2 separate regions of the Homo sapiens genome follow, and region 1 is linked to region 2. The links come from fine-mapping of genetic effects on gene expression. Tissue or cell type: tibial nerve. Region 2 holds a variant in brackets; the other region holds the start of a gene. All regions are shown on one strand. Distances are between the middles of the regions.

Region 1 (8,126 bases), 52 kb before region 2:
TTTTCTTTTTGCACAACGTCTGAGTAATCAAAGCTCTCTAATAACTTTATGTCTTCTCTTAAGAAATATTTCCCCCCCAGCCTGGGAAGAATTTATTCAACCTTCTTCCTTGCTTCTCAGCAACGAATCTCTAGTTGATTTTAACCTGTGGTTCTTCCACCAGGACCCCTCTTTCCTTCTTCACAGTTCAGCTTCTTAACACTTGGCCCATGAAGCCTTCCCTTGGAGACTTCAGTTCATAGTGATTAATTCATTCTGTGAATTCCTTAGAGCCTTGTTGTCTTTCTCTCTACACCTATACCAGTCTCTTGGGGGTGTGTTTCCACTTACATTGTGGGCTTCTCAAAGACACTACGGCACTGAACACTGTTTTGGACCCTGATTTACACTGCAAGTGAGAGGAAGAGGAAGACACTCAAGAAAGGTGTCAGGAAAGAGTAATGCTGGATCGATATGAACATTGCATTAGGTTGGTGCAAAAGTAATCATGGTTTTTGCCATTGAAAGTAATGGCAATTACTTTTGTACCAAGCCAATATCTTGCCAAGGCCTCTGGATTATGTCTTCAACAAAATCTAAAAGTTTAATTTCTGTTCAGTAGGTACAACATGCAAAAAATAAATTGCCATAATTATTATTAGCATTTTCTTACTAACAGATTTTTCAAAAGCTGTTTCCATATCAAGCAGATCAACCTTTCTGTTGTCATAGAGACAAAGATCTTTATATAGCCATGGGCAAGGTGAGATTTTTTTCTCCTCTTTCCAGTTGCCTAGAACTAATAAGAAAGGAAAGGAAATTTTTTAAATCAGTTTTTTCTTTCATTTTTTCCCCAATTAAAGTGAGTGAAATGTGGGAGGTTATATTTTGTATCACATTTTAGATTTTAAATACCTATGTTTTTCATAAAATATGAAAGGGGAGGAAAAATTTGAACGATGCCATTTTCAAAATTTGTAAGCAGCAGGCTTGTCAGTGATAAGCAGCTATAATCCATGTACCTTGTTTTTTTTCTTCTTCTTAAACCAAATAGTGAACTTTGGATGGAGGTCTTAGAAGGTAAGGTTACTAGGACCCCAAATGACTAAAGCATAAATTAACATCTATTGAGGGACTAATGCTGAATCCTAAGGTGCTCTGCAGTACTTGCCTCCTCCAACCCTGAGAACTTGGAGTGCTCCCCTTCTCTCTGCAGAGGCAAAGTCTATGATAATGTAGTGCAAGACCACATCCTCTCCTCCTGGAAGACTTACCTCATAATTTAAGCTTTCTTTTTTTTTTTTTTTATGAACTGATAACTTGCCATCATAGCAGTTTTCTGTCTCATAATTACTGTTTATCATTTCATGCATTCATCATCAAGAAAAGAGGATTTCAGTATGAACCTGTCCACTTTTCCTGTCCTTTGTCTTAATATTGAGTTATTCCTTTACCCATAGGTCTTCTTACCTCAGGACTCAAAACTTCTTATTCTTTCTAAGGTTAATCTTTCCCCCATGTTGTTAGACTGATGCTCTCCTCCTACCCCCATTGAGATCTGACAATTAACATTCCTCCCTCATTCCCTGTATCTTCAGTCTGTCCTCCATGGATTCCTTCCTGCAGTCCTCTTTGAGGAAAAAAAAAACTTCCCTCAATTCTGCTTATTTTCCGTCTGCCTCTGGGTTTAGGATTTTGATTTTATGCCTTTTTGCAATAAATAGGTGTTATGCCGGATTTTGGCGGGGGGGGGGGGGGGTGGGGAAGGGAAGTGTATGGCACAAGGACTTTTAAAATATACTTTTTCCTCTCTAAGATGATACCTCCCTGGAGAGCTGTGCCTTGGTTCTCAAACTTTAGTATGCATCAGAATCACCTGAGGAGCTTGTTAATCTGTAGCCTGCTGGACCCCACCCCTGGAGTTTCTGATTCAGTAGGTTGGGGCTGAGGCCTGAGAATATGCAGTCTAACATTTCCCAGGTGATGTTCATACTGCTGAGCTAAGACCATACTTTGAGAAATATTGCCTTGAAGTAACAACCCTCCCTTTGCTTAACATGCACCTCTCTTGTCATATGGATGTTGGTGTCACTATGTTGTGCCAAAAGTTACCCTGTTTTGGCCTGCATAGGCTCAACCTCCACAGAGTGACAAGGGCATCTCTTGAAAGATGAGGGCATCTCTCAACCATCTGGTGCTCAGGAAATGAAACCTTGTGAGGGTCACCACGCTTGGCTAAGGAGGCTAAATGACTGGCAGAGGATGTTCCTGGTGGTGGATGCTCAGGGTCTCTACCCCCAAACCTAGTCAGCCCTATCAGATATTTTTGAGGGGTTCTAGGATTCTTGAAACCCTGCTGAAAGGCAGCAGGAGAAAGTGGGATTTTTAAAAAAAATTTACTTCAGCCTTTTCCAGGGAAGGGGGTCCCCTCCTGAGAACAGCACGTGGCAGCAGGAGCCCTTGAGAGATCTTACTGAAAAGCTGAATTGAAAAGGAACTGGGACTTGGCCCACCCATTCATGCCCCCAGTGGGAGTTCTTTGCTCAGTACTAATTTTGGAGAAACTGAGTGTGTGTGTGTGTGTGTGTGTGTTTTATTAAGAAAGCAGTAGTTTTTCTTACAAAGATGAGCAAATTTAAAAAGATAATTAATAGATAAAATCCTGAATTGCTATTCAATAGCTGTGAGACCTTGAGCAAGTTATTCCTTCTCCTTGGATCTCAGTTTCTTCTAATCTGTATGATAAGTAGCAGGCAAGTGAGAAAGTCTGTTAGTAGTACAGTCATTCTTAAGAGCAACATGGCATGCTTGTCAGGGACGGACCAGGGCTGGAACTTGGAAGGCCTGTTGCATGGATTTGTGGATTGATTGAAACAAATTCTATCAGCATGGTCCATTCCTTCAGGGAATGGACCTGACAAGATAATTAATGGAAACTAATTAATATAAACCCCTCAACCCTTTAACTGTATCTCTCAACCACAATTATTCCCAGAAGGCCTTTAACTTTTCCACATGAAGAAGCCTGGCCTGGCAGGGAGGGTGAGTCTCCTCTATGAAACAGCCCGTGACAGACTGTTGGGGGCTCAAAGGAAATGGCAGAGGGGGTGGTCTCCTTCCTTCCCCAGCACAGAATTCCATCATCTCTAATTGTTAGGACATGATCAAGACCTCTACCAGCCTTTTAGATACTCTTGTCTTTTGTCTTTTTTTCCCTTTCTTTTCTTTCCTTTTCTCTTTTCACAGCTGTATTGAGATGTAAATCCTACACTATAGAATTTAAAGTGGACAATGCAATTGTTTTTAATATGTTCACACGCAACTGTCTCTACAATCTAATTTTACAAAAATTTCACCACCCCCCCGCCCCAAGCCCATACCCACTGATTAGTAGTCACCTACTGTCCCTCCCATCCGCTTCCCCAGCCCTGGTAACTACTAATCTACTTTCAGTTTATCTGGACATTTCATGTAAATAGTATTATAAAATATGTGGTACTTTTTTTTCTAAATAGGAGAAAGGAGACCTGATGACACCCTGATAGTCTAGTACTAAAGGCTCCCCTTCTCCTCTTTACCCCATTACTCCAGAAACAACGCCCTCCCCCAGGTTGCTGATGTATACAATCCCTCAATCAGGCCTGTGAGTGTGGAGGTGGTGCGCGGGTGCCAGCGGCAGGGCACAGGGCCTTTGGTCCATTAGACCATGAGACTGAAGTTCAAGCACATCTGGGCACGGTGGAGCAGCGGCTTGTGTGCTCACTAAGATGCCCGTGTGACTGCCAGCAGTCAGTTGACAGATTAGGTCACCCTTGGCCATAGGGCCTGAGCACTCCATTCCTAGAGGACCACAGGGTGCCAGAGCTCACATTCACCTTCCCTGACGTGGCTGGCCCAAGGCTCAAAGGCCTGTAAGACTTCTCTGGCAGAGACCCCTGCCAGAGGAGTTGAGGAGCGTCACACCCATATTCCCTTCAAGCAGCGGCAGAGAGCAGGCCTTCCCCTGAGGTTCCTGAATAGTTCTACTCCCCCGGCCACAGCCCCAACCAGGGGTAAAGAATGGGGCTGGGGCTCTCAGAGGCATGGGGTGGTAAAAACAACCACCAAGTTTTGGGTTCTCATCACCCTAAAACGTGGGGGAAATTTGATAGGGCAAAGCGTTTTTCTCCAAGCTTCCAGGGAAAGGGGGCCAAAGGAGTAGGGAGGGAAGGTGGCATAGAGCGATGGAGGGTCCTGCATCAAGGGCGCCGCGACGGGAGCGCTGTGTACTCACAGTCGAGTGAGACCGGCCGTGGGGCCGGGGCAGCGCAGGGCGCCGTCGGGCACGCAGTTGCAGGGCTCAGGGCAGAGCGCCTCGCGCAGCGCTCGTGGCAGCGGCGGCTGCAGCAGCAGCAGCAGCTTCAGCAGCTGCAGCGCCGAGAACCGCTGCTTCATGGCCGGCGAACTGGGCTTCTGCGGCTTGCCAGTGTCTTGGACGGCCTCTGAGTGCGGCCCGCACCCCTCTCCCCGCCCCTTGGCTGCCCTTCCACACACCCTTCCCTGCCGGCCCGCCCCTGCCCTCCCCCTCTTACCGCGCACCCCGCTGAGTCTGCTCTGCCTTGACCTGCGACAGTGCCCAGTGACCCAATAACCTCCTTCCTGCTACTTTCCCCTGTCTTGTCCCCTACCATCTGCAAATGGCCCTAGCTATAGGAGGTAAAGAGATTTAATGGCAAATGTTTTGGATTAGAGGTGGGGAGTTCTGAATTGAGTGAGTTGTGACGCTTCCCGGAACCCCTTTTATTTCATTTGTGAAAGGGTCCGATGGATACTCGCTATACCCACATCAGAAGGCGTAAGAGTGCCTGGCTCAGACATTTTTCCTCTCTTTTATCCTCAACCCCTAATCCTTTCCCCTTCTCTTTCACCAAATCCCTCCACTCTACAAGTAATCTTTGCCCATCCTCCCAACTACCCCAGTAATTTCTCTTGGTGGTAAATGCTTTCTTATTTATGGTATAGCTATTTGGCTTGGTCCTGTATCTCTTCTATAGATTGGGAGGTCCTTGAGAGCAAAATCCAATTCAGATTTATTTTTGTATTCCTTCTGGCTTCTACATGGTAAGTCCTCAGTAAAGATTTGTTGAATGAATGAATGAAACTGCCTAATACTGGTAGCAGCTGCCCCATAGAAGGCCCAGGATAGGCTAGACCTTGTAACAGGTGCTCTGCCTCACATCATGTTTAAGCTCCACATTGAACTAGCAGGGTGTTTGCGATGAGAAAAATGTCCCAAGAGGTATGTGGCTTCCCTGAAGTCACACGGTTTTAAAGTAGTGAAACCTGGAACTCATGTCTATCACCTACCACCTCTCACCAATGCAAAAAGCTGCTATGATCTACATACCAAAGAACTTAGGAGACAAAATTTTACGGTAATCATGGGGATCCATAATATCCCCTCTTTGATTTGATCATTTCTTCCTTCCAAGGATTCTGTTTGGATTCTGGAAATCCTAGCAGTTTTGCTGGAAGAGGTGGACTTTGAAAGCTGGGAAGGCATTTAAGGCTTTGAAGAGAGGAAATATAAGAATAGATTTCTTTCACTCTGAAGCCAGTTCTCAAGGATGGGCTCCTTCATTCACCATTCTACAGTCTGTTGCTCAAGGAGGGTAGATTATTATTATTTTAAAAACTTGTTTGGCTTTGGCCACATTGTGCTAGATGGCACAAAAACAATGCTCATGTCTATAATATTGTCTTCTCTGGATCCTCTCTTCAACTGCTTATAGATGACTCCTCACCCTTTAATACCTCTGCATGGGCTGTCCCCACTATTTTCTCTTCTTTTTCCATTATTCCATTAGATAAACTCCCAGTTGTCCTTCAAGACTCAGCCCAATGTCATTTCCACTTTGATTCTTCTCTGAGTCATCCTAGTTGAGTAGTTGTGGCCATAACACCTGGTTCTACAGCAGGTAATCTAACACACTGTAATTGTGGGTTTAATTTTGCTTTCCCCTCTCTATTCATCTCAATATCAACAGAGCATGTCATAGCTTCTAGCTCCTAGTAGGTGTTCCATATGTGTCTGTTGAATAATAGAGTGAATAAGTGAGGCCCAGATTTGTAGTAGATGCTCAGTAAACTATCTGAGAAGAGCTTGATACCCTCACTTGCTTTATTCTCAACCACGCTGGATCTATCTGGATATGTAAAAAGTAATTATACATGACGACTTTGGGTGTCATGTTCTCTGTTCTCTTTTAGTTTTGTCAGATTTTGGTAGGGAAGTTGGGGTAGGCACTGGGATTTTTAAAAGTTTTCACCATGTATCTTGAATGGAAGGAGAGAAAGAATGAATAACTCAAGGTGCCTGAATGGCTTTTCTTTCAAGTCTCATGTTTTATGTGACTTTTTTCTTTTTTTAACCCTGTAGTGTACCTGTTATATATAAAAAAAGTTTGCTCCCACCCACCCCTGAATCTTTGAAAACAATGGATATTCCAGAAGAATCATTTAATTCTGTACTCCAGTAGGAGGACTAGGCAATCAGAACACTAGGATTTTCCTTCTGTTTCTGCTGTCAATCATGAGATTTGCCCTTCAGTCTCTTCATCTGTAAGAAGAAGGGTTGAAGTTCACTATCCCTAAGGCTCTTCTGGCTCTAAAGATGCAAGGACTTTCTAAGCAGCTCCTACAGAATTGCTAGTGGGAGGAATTGGATTGTATATATTGACTTCTTATAACTTGTCTTGGATTGGAAATAAAATCCTGTTTATGAGGAGTTGAGGTTGTTCGTTTGGAAGAAAGCTAACAACTGTAATGAGTTTTCATAAAATTTTACTATCTAGATTAATTTCAGTTGGATCTTAATTATCACATCAGTTCTTGCAATGTAACTATTATAATAAAATCATATTGATTCATTTGTTATAATCACAAAAGTTTGTTACAATGGAATTTACCTATCTTATTCATTAATACTCATTATGAGTGAGTATTTTTAAATCCAAAGGACTTTGTTTCATTAACTATGCTTATAGCTACTTTGTCAGAGAACTTCAAACCAACATGACCCACAAAGATTGCTGATTACATTTTAATGACAAAATAAAGTTCACAGAATTCACAAATATTTTATCCTACTTTAGAGATAGAAAAACATACTGACACCGTAACTCAGAAATTGCAATTAAAACTCTCCAAAGTTTTAGAATGGAGCTTCTCATATTTTAGGGTGCAGAAATACCATTTGCAAAGCTTTAAATACGAAGATTCCTAGAACTTTCCCTATGAGATTCTGATTCCATAGATATAGAGTGGGGTCCAATAATCTGCATTTTAACAAGCTTTCTCGTGTAATTTTGATGCATGTAGTCCTAGAGCACAATTTGAGGAATACAAAAATGGTAATCCTAGAATTAAATTTGCCTGAAGAAAACAAAGCTCAAGAATCTTTATTAAGGACTTTGAGTGAAGCCTAATAATTTTGATGCATCTTAAAAGAAACCTTGATATGTATAAGCATAGAAATAGTATATTCTGTATACCTGTGTTTAAATGTCTAAAATTATTTAATTGGTTATATTGCTGAAATTTATTTATTTATTTATGGAATGAGCCATGTTGCAAAATCATGGAATCTATTTTCTTTATGCCACCCTAGGTCAAAACTCAATAGCATCTGAAGTTACATTAACACATTGGAGTTGAAAGACATTAGCAAAGTAATTTTTAAAAAAATTTTTACTTTAAGTTCTGGGATACATGTGCAGAACGTGCAGGTTTGTTACATGGACATACCTGGGCCATGGTGGTTTGCTGCACCTATCAACCCGCCATCTAGGTTTTAAACCCCGCATGCATTAGGTATTTGTCCTAATGCTCTCCCTCCCCTTGCCCCCCATCCCCCAACAGGCCCCAGTGTGTGATGTTCCCCTCCCTGTGTCCATGTGTTTTCATTGTTCAACTCCCACTTATGAGTGAGAACATGTGGTGTTTGGTTTTCTGTTCCTGTGTTAGCTTGCTGAGAATGATGGCTTCCAGCTTCATCCATGTCCCTGCAAAGGACATAAACTCTTTTTTATGGCTGCATAGTATTCCATGGTGTATATGAGCCACATTTTCTTTATCCAGTCTATCATTGATGGGCATTTGGGTTGGTT
Region 2 (8,126 bases):
TTTGGAAGACCTGACCCTCAGGGTCTCTCTCAATCTTTCCCTCCCAAATTATTTTCAATCAGTACGCTTTTTCTTTTAGAGGAGCTTCAGTAAATACAATTTACTCCTTGCTGAATTTCTGGCAGTGTTGTAGCCCCTTCAAGAGGGACATTTCAGGCAGTTGCTCAACTGATTTGGTCTCTCACAAGCTGAGGGTCAAGTAACTACCATACAAAGAACACTATGAAATTTTCTTTATAAATAGATCTTTTTTGAGTGCAGACAGTTCCTACCGTATTCTTCAGGTATCTTTGGGAAGAGACCCAGCCTGGTCTCTCTTTATGGGGAGGACATTATCTTTGTACATACCACCTATGGATATCCACCCAGACATCTAGACTCTGATGTCTAGATCTTTCATTTCTGGTTTCTTCTCGTACATTAGCGTATACCTTTATTACTGAACACTAACAATGACCCTTCATGAGGCCGTATCTAGTTACAGGGGAGGCCTTCATAGAAAAATCAGTCTTCATGGAGTAACCATAACAGAATATAATGTATTATAACCCCAATAGTCGTGACACATTTACAGTAATAAGGAGCATTTTTCTACTCATCCCACTCCCAATGACTGCCTCGAGCAGTCAAGATGCCTTCACTGCTGCTGTTCAAAACCTCTTTATTCCTCTTCCTCCATTTATAGCAGAACCCACTCTTTTTTTCAATAAGCTGACTCTTAGAAAAGAACTGATAAGCTAAATTCCAAGAAGGTGCTCCTGGCTAAAAGTAGCATAATAGATAATTTAACTTTGGAGTAACAATGCTTTAAACCCAAATGAGCCAGGCTCTAAAAATGAAGTTTAGTGATTGTTACAGGCCACTAGGAAGATATTTTGTGTCTGAGAGACTTCCCTGGTTCAACTTAAATCACACACAATTAGTAGAAGCTTATTCCAATTATGCCTGCATGATGCCTGCCTTGTGGCTGGTTGCTTGGGCTATTCTTTAATAGAGTGAGGGAGATTTGGAAGAAGTAGGTTCCTACTAGGAAGTCTCTCATTCCACCATTATTGAGCTGCTTACAGTGCTGTGTGTGTGGTGGTGTGTGTTGGGAGGTGGTAGGTGGTGGTTCACTGCAGAGTGCTGGAAGGTATTACAAACCTTAGGGTAAACATGGCAACCCTTTTTGGAGCATAAATCTCTTCTTGAATATGTGGGGAAAATAAGTGCAGTGAGATTATTTATTGAAACCTTAATTTGTATTTTGGTTGAGGGCGTGGAAGCATCAGAAAGAATGAGAACAATTTTTTTTAAAAATTTTCCTGAATTCTGAGAAGGCCATTGTGTTCTTGTTGCAGTAGCAGCTTGAAGATAATTATCTTTCAGGCTTTCTCAAAACTCTAAACTCTTTGAAATTGTGTAAGGGCATGTGTATGTATATGCAGGGATGGAGAGATGTGAAGAAAAGAGTTGGAACTGACAGAGAAAGGAGATTCTGAGAAGCCTGGGAAGGGATGCAGGGCTATGAGGGGCCCGGATGCCCCTATCCCTGATTGGCAACTGAGAACTGCAGAGGGTAGGCTGGCCTTGAGTGCTGGGCTCTAGCCTCAGCAAAAGTCCCAGTGGTAGAGCAGAGGCTTGGCAGGGAATGTGTGGAGCTTCTTCACCCGCTAACTCCAAGGGCCATGCACAGCTGGGCAATGAGCCTAGTAGTGGTAACCAGTACAAACCAAGGACTGAAGGCCCTTCCTCAAATACCCTGTCCCAAATACCCTGAGACTTTGATAGTACTCTGGGAGATATAGATGTGCATATAGAGTTACAGGATTGAATAAGATAATTTCTTGCCAATCTGGCATAGAGAGGAGGGGGCCTACATTAGATTTAGTTTTGCAGAAAAAAAATCTAATGTTTGTGGAAAACTTGGTGTATTGGTTATTTATTGCTGTGTACCCCAAAATTTGGTGTCTTAAAATACCAAACCCTGTAATCCCAGGACTTTGGGAGGCTGAGGTGGGTGGATTGCTCGAGCTCAGGAGTTCAAGACCAGCCTGGGCTACATGGTGAAACCTCGTCTCCACCAGAAAAAAAAAAAAAAAAAAAAAATCAGCCAGGGGTGGTGACATGTGCCTGTAGTCCCAGCTGCTAGGGAGGCTGAGGTGGGAGGATCACTTGAGCCTGGAAGGCGGAGATTGCAGTGAGCTGATATTGCCCCACTGCATTGCAACCTGGCCGACAGAGTAAAATCCTGTCACAAAACAAAACAAAACTGAATGTTTAGTTAGATGTCGCTGGCTCATGGTTTCTCATAAGATTGCAATCAATGTGTCAGCTGGGACTGAAGTCATCTCAAAGTTTGACTGGGGGAAGATCTGTTTCCAAGCTCAGTCATGTATCAGGCCTCAAGTCTTCTCTGGATATTGACTGGAGACCTCATTTCCTTGCTCTGTGGACCTCTCCACAGAGCTATTACTCACAACATAGCAACTTGATTACCTTAGAGAAAAGGCTGAGAGAGGGAGAGAGACAGAGACAGACAGACAGACAGACAGACAGAGACAGAGGGAGAAGAGAGGGGGATAGACTGGGGAAAAGAAAAGGCAAGGTGTGGGGAGAGAGAAAGAGAGACTAATACAGGGGCATAGTCTTTTTGTAACCTAATCTCGAAAATGGCATTCCATGGCTCTGCCACAGTCTATTAATTAGAAGTAAGTTGGTAGGTACAGGTCATATACAAAGACAGGAAATTGTACAAGGGCATGAATACCAGTCTGTAAGGTGAATACCACCATACAGACTGCCCACTACACCTGAGTTTGAGAGGGCAATTTTGTTTCCTCTATTCATAAGCAAACATAATTATGTTATGGCATAGAATATGAGATTCTGGGGTTGTTAATTCATGGACTCCTAGTACGAAGCATTTTGGAAGCTTTGTATTCATATGGTTCCTATGCTTAAGGAATTGGCCCAAGTAGGGCTTCCACTCAAAGGACACTGGTTGCTATTTGGGGGCTGTGAAAAGACGGTAGGTAAGTGAGAAGGAAAAGAAAACATGTTTTGCAAAATACTTTGTTTTGCTGAATACAATGCAAGAGAAAAAGGAGGAATAAGGCACGGCCTTGCTCTCAGATGTGACATGGGTAAGTTGGAATCTAGAAGACAGAATAGAAAATAGTGCTGGATTGAATTTAAGCCAATGATCACAATAAATGTTCATACCAAATAGTGATAGATGGGTGAGGCAGGGAGAATGTCAGAGGGCCCCAC[T/C]TAGTATTAAGAAAAGATTTTGAAGAAAAGGTGAAATGTGACCTGCATTGGAAATTTGGGGATGGAGGTGGGGGCAAACAATGTGGGCAGAGGTTTAGAAAGAGGAAGAATGATGTCTTTGGAAACTGACTTAGTTGGAGGGCAGGTTTATATGGAGTCTGGGTCCTGGATTTTTCATCATTGTTTGTTCCTCATCTTCAGTGTGTGTTTTTGGGGCATCTCCTGCCTGCATAGCTCTGTCCTTGGTGGTGGTGGAGAGCCTGAGAGCCCAGGATGACTCTGGAGAACATGGCCCTTCTTTAGGGAGCTTCCTGGTGGGCTCAAGATTTCTTAATGCCATATCTGATGTCACATTGCTCACCGCTGTGATTCCAGGATGGAAAACTGAATAAGAAGCATTTTTTCTTTCTCTGGAAGGGATAGCCTTTGGGGGCAGAGGGGAAATTAGCTAGAAAAAAACCAAATAGGCTTCTCTGAAAAAACAAGGTTTAATCAAGGATCTTGAGAAAATAACCAGCTGTTTTATGAGCAATTTGACTATTCTTTTGAAAAGAGTTAATGTACCACAAGGAACACAATTATTTTTAGAGCCCTAAGGAAGCAGGGATTTGTTTGAAGCTCCAGATTAAAGGTGGATCCAAGGTTCTATGAGGTGACGGGCAAAGAGACCAAAGAAAAAGTTTTCTGAACTTTGAATTTGTGTAACTTGTAAGGAAGAGGGGCTGTTTTATTTTTTTCCATTTTATTTCCTAGATCGCTTGTCAGAGCTTAGATGTCGCACTTTGGGGATTTAATGAGTTGACATTTTCACAGGCTAACCTGGTAATTAATTTCTGCTCATCATGGGGCCAGTGTCAGCTCATTCTTCCTTTCTGATCCAGAGCCAGGAGTGTGAGGTCTGAGTCCTGTTTGTCTGACTTTCTCAGGAGCTGGCACTGGGCAGCAATGGGTGCCCATAGGCTGGACCCCTTTTGGGGTCAAGGCAGTGGTTGGTTGAGAGATGAGTCTTGCAGAACAAGATGGGCCCCAGAAAATTTAGGGAGTTGAAATCTTATGTCTCTGTTCACACAAACAAACACAGTTACTTTGTCTTTTCCTCTCCTTACAGTAAAGAGTTGGTTAAGTCATGGAATCATTTTAAAAAGAATCCAGTAAATATACATTAATATTTATCTACATACTATTTGCTTAATCACTCACTTACTTACTTAAAATATTTAGTTTAATTTTAATCTGAGTTTTTAGGGGAACTCCTGTCAGTTGATGTTGAGCCAAGACTGCTCTCTAAGGATGTATTGCTAATCGTAATTTTGTGTTGTCTTTCTTGTATAAACATCTCCCCTAAATGCATCATCTCTGATTTCTAATTTTAGGGTTTTAAAACATGGAGTGAAAGTTATACACACTTGCAAGGTAAAATCTTAATATTTTATAATTATAGTTGTCTCATTCACATCTGACTCACTGATAACTTTTATTAGCATGGTGTGATGGATATTTTTCAATGTATTCTGCTTAATTTTTAAAATAGAAACATTCTTCCTTTTCACACTCATTTTATTAATATACACAATATTTTATTGAATTAGATATTTACATCAACACATGAAACTGACAAAACACATTTGGGAACAATTTACTCTTGGAAAGAATATAACTAAATTGGTGGGATGCAAGGATATATTATTATTTATTACTTGTTAGCTTTGAGCTCAGAGTGCTGTATGTTTTAAAGGGAATGAAGGATATCAGCTCATCTAGAATAGGGGTTAGCAAACTTTTTCCATAAAGGACCACGTAGTACATGTTTTAGGCTTTGCAAGACTCTACAGTTTCTATGGCCAACTACTCAACTCTTCCATCATAGCACAAAAGCAGCCCTAGACAATGTGTAAATGAATGAGTGTAGTTATATCCCAATAAAACTTTGTTTCCAAAAACAGGCAGCAGATGGGATTTGGCCTGAGGGCCATAGTTTGCCAACTCCTGATCTAGAGTACTAGTTAAGCTGAAGTAGATTAAGAGAGTTGCTATTCCTCTTGATTCACTCTACCAAATGTTTGTTAAATGTAAATTGCATGCTTACCTGTTCATATCTGTGATAGACAGGGTAATAATGTGGCTTATTCTTCCTAGCTATAATGTGATGCATGCCTTTGTGTTCATTCTTCTGTGGCTTGATGTCCTTTCCATGCCCTTTTCATCTCCTGGCACATTTCTGCCTATCTTTCAAAACAGCTCAAAAATTACCTCCTCAGGGAAGCCTCCCCTGTCTGCTGGGCCAACTTCAATGGCCCTTCTCTGGGTTGTTGCAATTGTCATCCCCTGCAATCCTCCAACCTAGTGCTTGTCATGCCGTATTGTAAAAAATGGGCTTTGTGTCTCTCTCCTTCAAACCTGTGACCTTTTTGAAGGCATGAACTGAGACTCAGTCATGTCCATATACCTTTGTACATAGCAAGCATTCAATAAATGTTTGTTGAATAAATGACAGAATCAATGTGGCAAAGCATGACATAAACAGACTATATGAATAGCCATTGCTATTATTTGTGTGTATGTATTTTGACTTTGTAACTTTTTTCTTTTATTTATTCACTAAGAAGATGGAGGGAGTGTGGCAGCAGATCTTGACAAGTTTTCCCATAAAAACAAATTTACTTATTTGTTATTTATATACATTTTAAAATTTATAGACATTAAAACATAAAAGTAATATGTGTATATAGCTTTAAGGTCAAATTGTGCTACAAGATTTGTGAGGCAGGCACTTGTTTGGCTATTTGCAGCCATTCTCAACCCCTGTCTCTGTTGCTTGCTTTCTACTGCAGAGGATGAAAGTCCAGATTCTCCCATCACCAGCCTCTCTCATAGGCAGAGGTGGCCATGTGACCCAGTTTCGGCTAACGAGATGTAAGGTGGACTCTACTCAGGGTCTTCCAGGAAAGATATTTTCCTTTCTAATTGTGGTGAAGACTGCCAGGTATCTGTTATTTTGTTCTTCCCTTTTTTTTTTTTTTTTTAGAACTTTTAAGTTTTAGCTGTGCATATGGCTACTAGGAATAAATACTGCATTTTCCAGTGTCTTTTCTAGCTAGTTGTGGCTTTGTGACTAAATCCTGGCCAGTAGGATATAAGCAAAAGTGTTTTGTGGCAGCTTTCAGGAAATTTCGTCAAAAGAAAGCTCTCATGTGTCCTTTTTATTCCTCATTCCTCCATCCTGCTGGCTGTAATGTTGACATGATGGCTGGAGCTGCTGTAACCTTCTGGAACTATGAAGTCACCTTGAGAAAGGAAGCTGTGACTAGTAGAATGACAAGAGAGATGGAGGCTTGTTTTCTGAAGGGATCACAGAGTAAGTAAACCTCATACCAATCCTGGACAACCTACCTCCTCTAGAGTGGCGAGAACAAGATTTTGCCTTGCTCTAGACATTCTAATTTTGGGTCCCTATCACTCATTATCAAAACTAATCCTAACTGATTCACTAATGAGAGGGAAGAGTTACATGAAGACAACTTTCTTGCTCAGTCACGGGCAATCTGTCTCCCATGATCTGCCTGTGAACACAATGTTTGCATCTGTGGCAGCCACCTTGCAGCCCTGAGTGAACAAGGTTGAAAAGCAACACACTGAGGATGGTGGAGCAGAAAGCTGGAAAGCAATGAGTCCTCAGTGATGTCACTGAGCTTCCAAGCCCATCTATTTCTGTACATTTTTTGAAAAAGTAAACAACAAGTATCCTCACATAGTAAGCCACCGTTAGTCCAGTTCCCTGCTACTGGTATCTTAATTAACTTGGTTTACACAAATCAGTAGTTCCTTGTCTCATGCCTGCTCATCCTGATTCTGTCTCTGGTAGGGAACCACTTTCAACTCTTAGCTGCTTTTCTTTGCTGTTTAGCTAACTAGGTAAAATAAAAGGATGATGATTTTGCTCTCTTAAATAACTCCTTTTATACACTTCCTTAATGTCTTAATGTCTCTCCTTCTGTCTCTCAATATAGCGAAGCCACTATTTTTGTTCATCTTGACTTTGTCAATATTATTTACAGCTGAGACATAGTGTTCTACAACTTCATTTTTTTCTTTTGCAACTTTTCCTTGGAATCATTAATTGACTTCCTGTATCATTTGCTTAGTTTTCTATGTATCTATCAATAATTCATTCCCATATATTTCACTAAAGCTGTAAAACTCGTTTTACTCCATTTAAACACATGAAGTAATCAAATAGTTCCTTTATTCCTGTAGGAGACATCTCCCTGGGAGCCTCTAGTCAACTACTCCAAATGTGGACGAGCTGCTATCTCAGTTTGCTGCCCAGTTATCATCTTAAGATTCTTTTGACCTCTTTCCTGTGTTGGAGTCCCTATTCTTGATCCTCATGTCTCCTTCTTTCCTGGTTTTCTCAGTTGTTTGGTTGGAACACATTTGGCTGAAGCTTTCTAAAAAAGAATACATGGGCAATTTTCTATTTTTTTAAAAAAAGATTGAGCATGTCTAGAAATATCTTTATCTGACCTTCTTACTTGATTCATGATTTGGCTGGCATAGAATTCTTGGCTGGAGAGTATTTTCCCTCAGAATTTTGTAGGCATCTTCTTTTAGCTTCTGCTGCTTTTAAGAAATAGGATGCTATTCTTACCTGCTTTTTTTGTTTGTCTGGAAGCTTTAAGCATCTTCTCTAATCTCCATTGTTCTGGAATTTCATGGGGATGGTTTGTGCCTTTTTTTTGTTTATTTTACAGGATATTTACTAGGCCATTTCAATCTGGAGACTCATGTATTTTAGTTCCAGAAAGTTCTTTGTATTACTTCTTTGATTGTTTTCTTTCCTCTGACCTTCTGTACTGATTTCTAGAACTTATGTA

The links. PIP is the estimated chance that this variant, and not a neighbour inherited with it, causes the effect.
Region 1: LHCGR starts here. The variant in region 2 is fine-mapped to the expression of LHCGR in tibial nerve (GTEx, PIP above 0.99).

What each region holds. Positions count from the first base shown.
Region 1 is chr2:48,751,259-48,759,384 of GRCh38, forward strand. LHCGR (luteinizing hormone/choriogonadotropin receptor) reads right to left here and starts at 4,466. Exons shown (of 11, transcript NM_000233.4): 1 at 4,253-4,466. The coding sequence starts at 4,413. The region is part of intron 10 of STON1-GTF2A1L (STON1-GTF2A1L readthrough); the gene reads left to right. RefSeq lists an enhancer at 4,024-4,800.
Region 2 is chr2:48,803,035-48,811,160 of GRCh38, forward strand. It overlaps LOC105374594 (a long non-coding RNA gene), which reads left to right. Exons shown (of 4, transcript XR_001739460.2): 2 at 4,626-4,665; 3 at 6,084-6,235; 4 at 6,533-8,126. Among named protein-coding and RNA genes, the nearest start is that of LHCGR, 51 kb to the left of the region's middle. The variant T/C (reference allele first, on the strand shown) is at 3,253.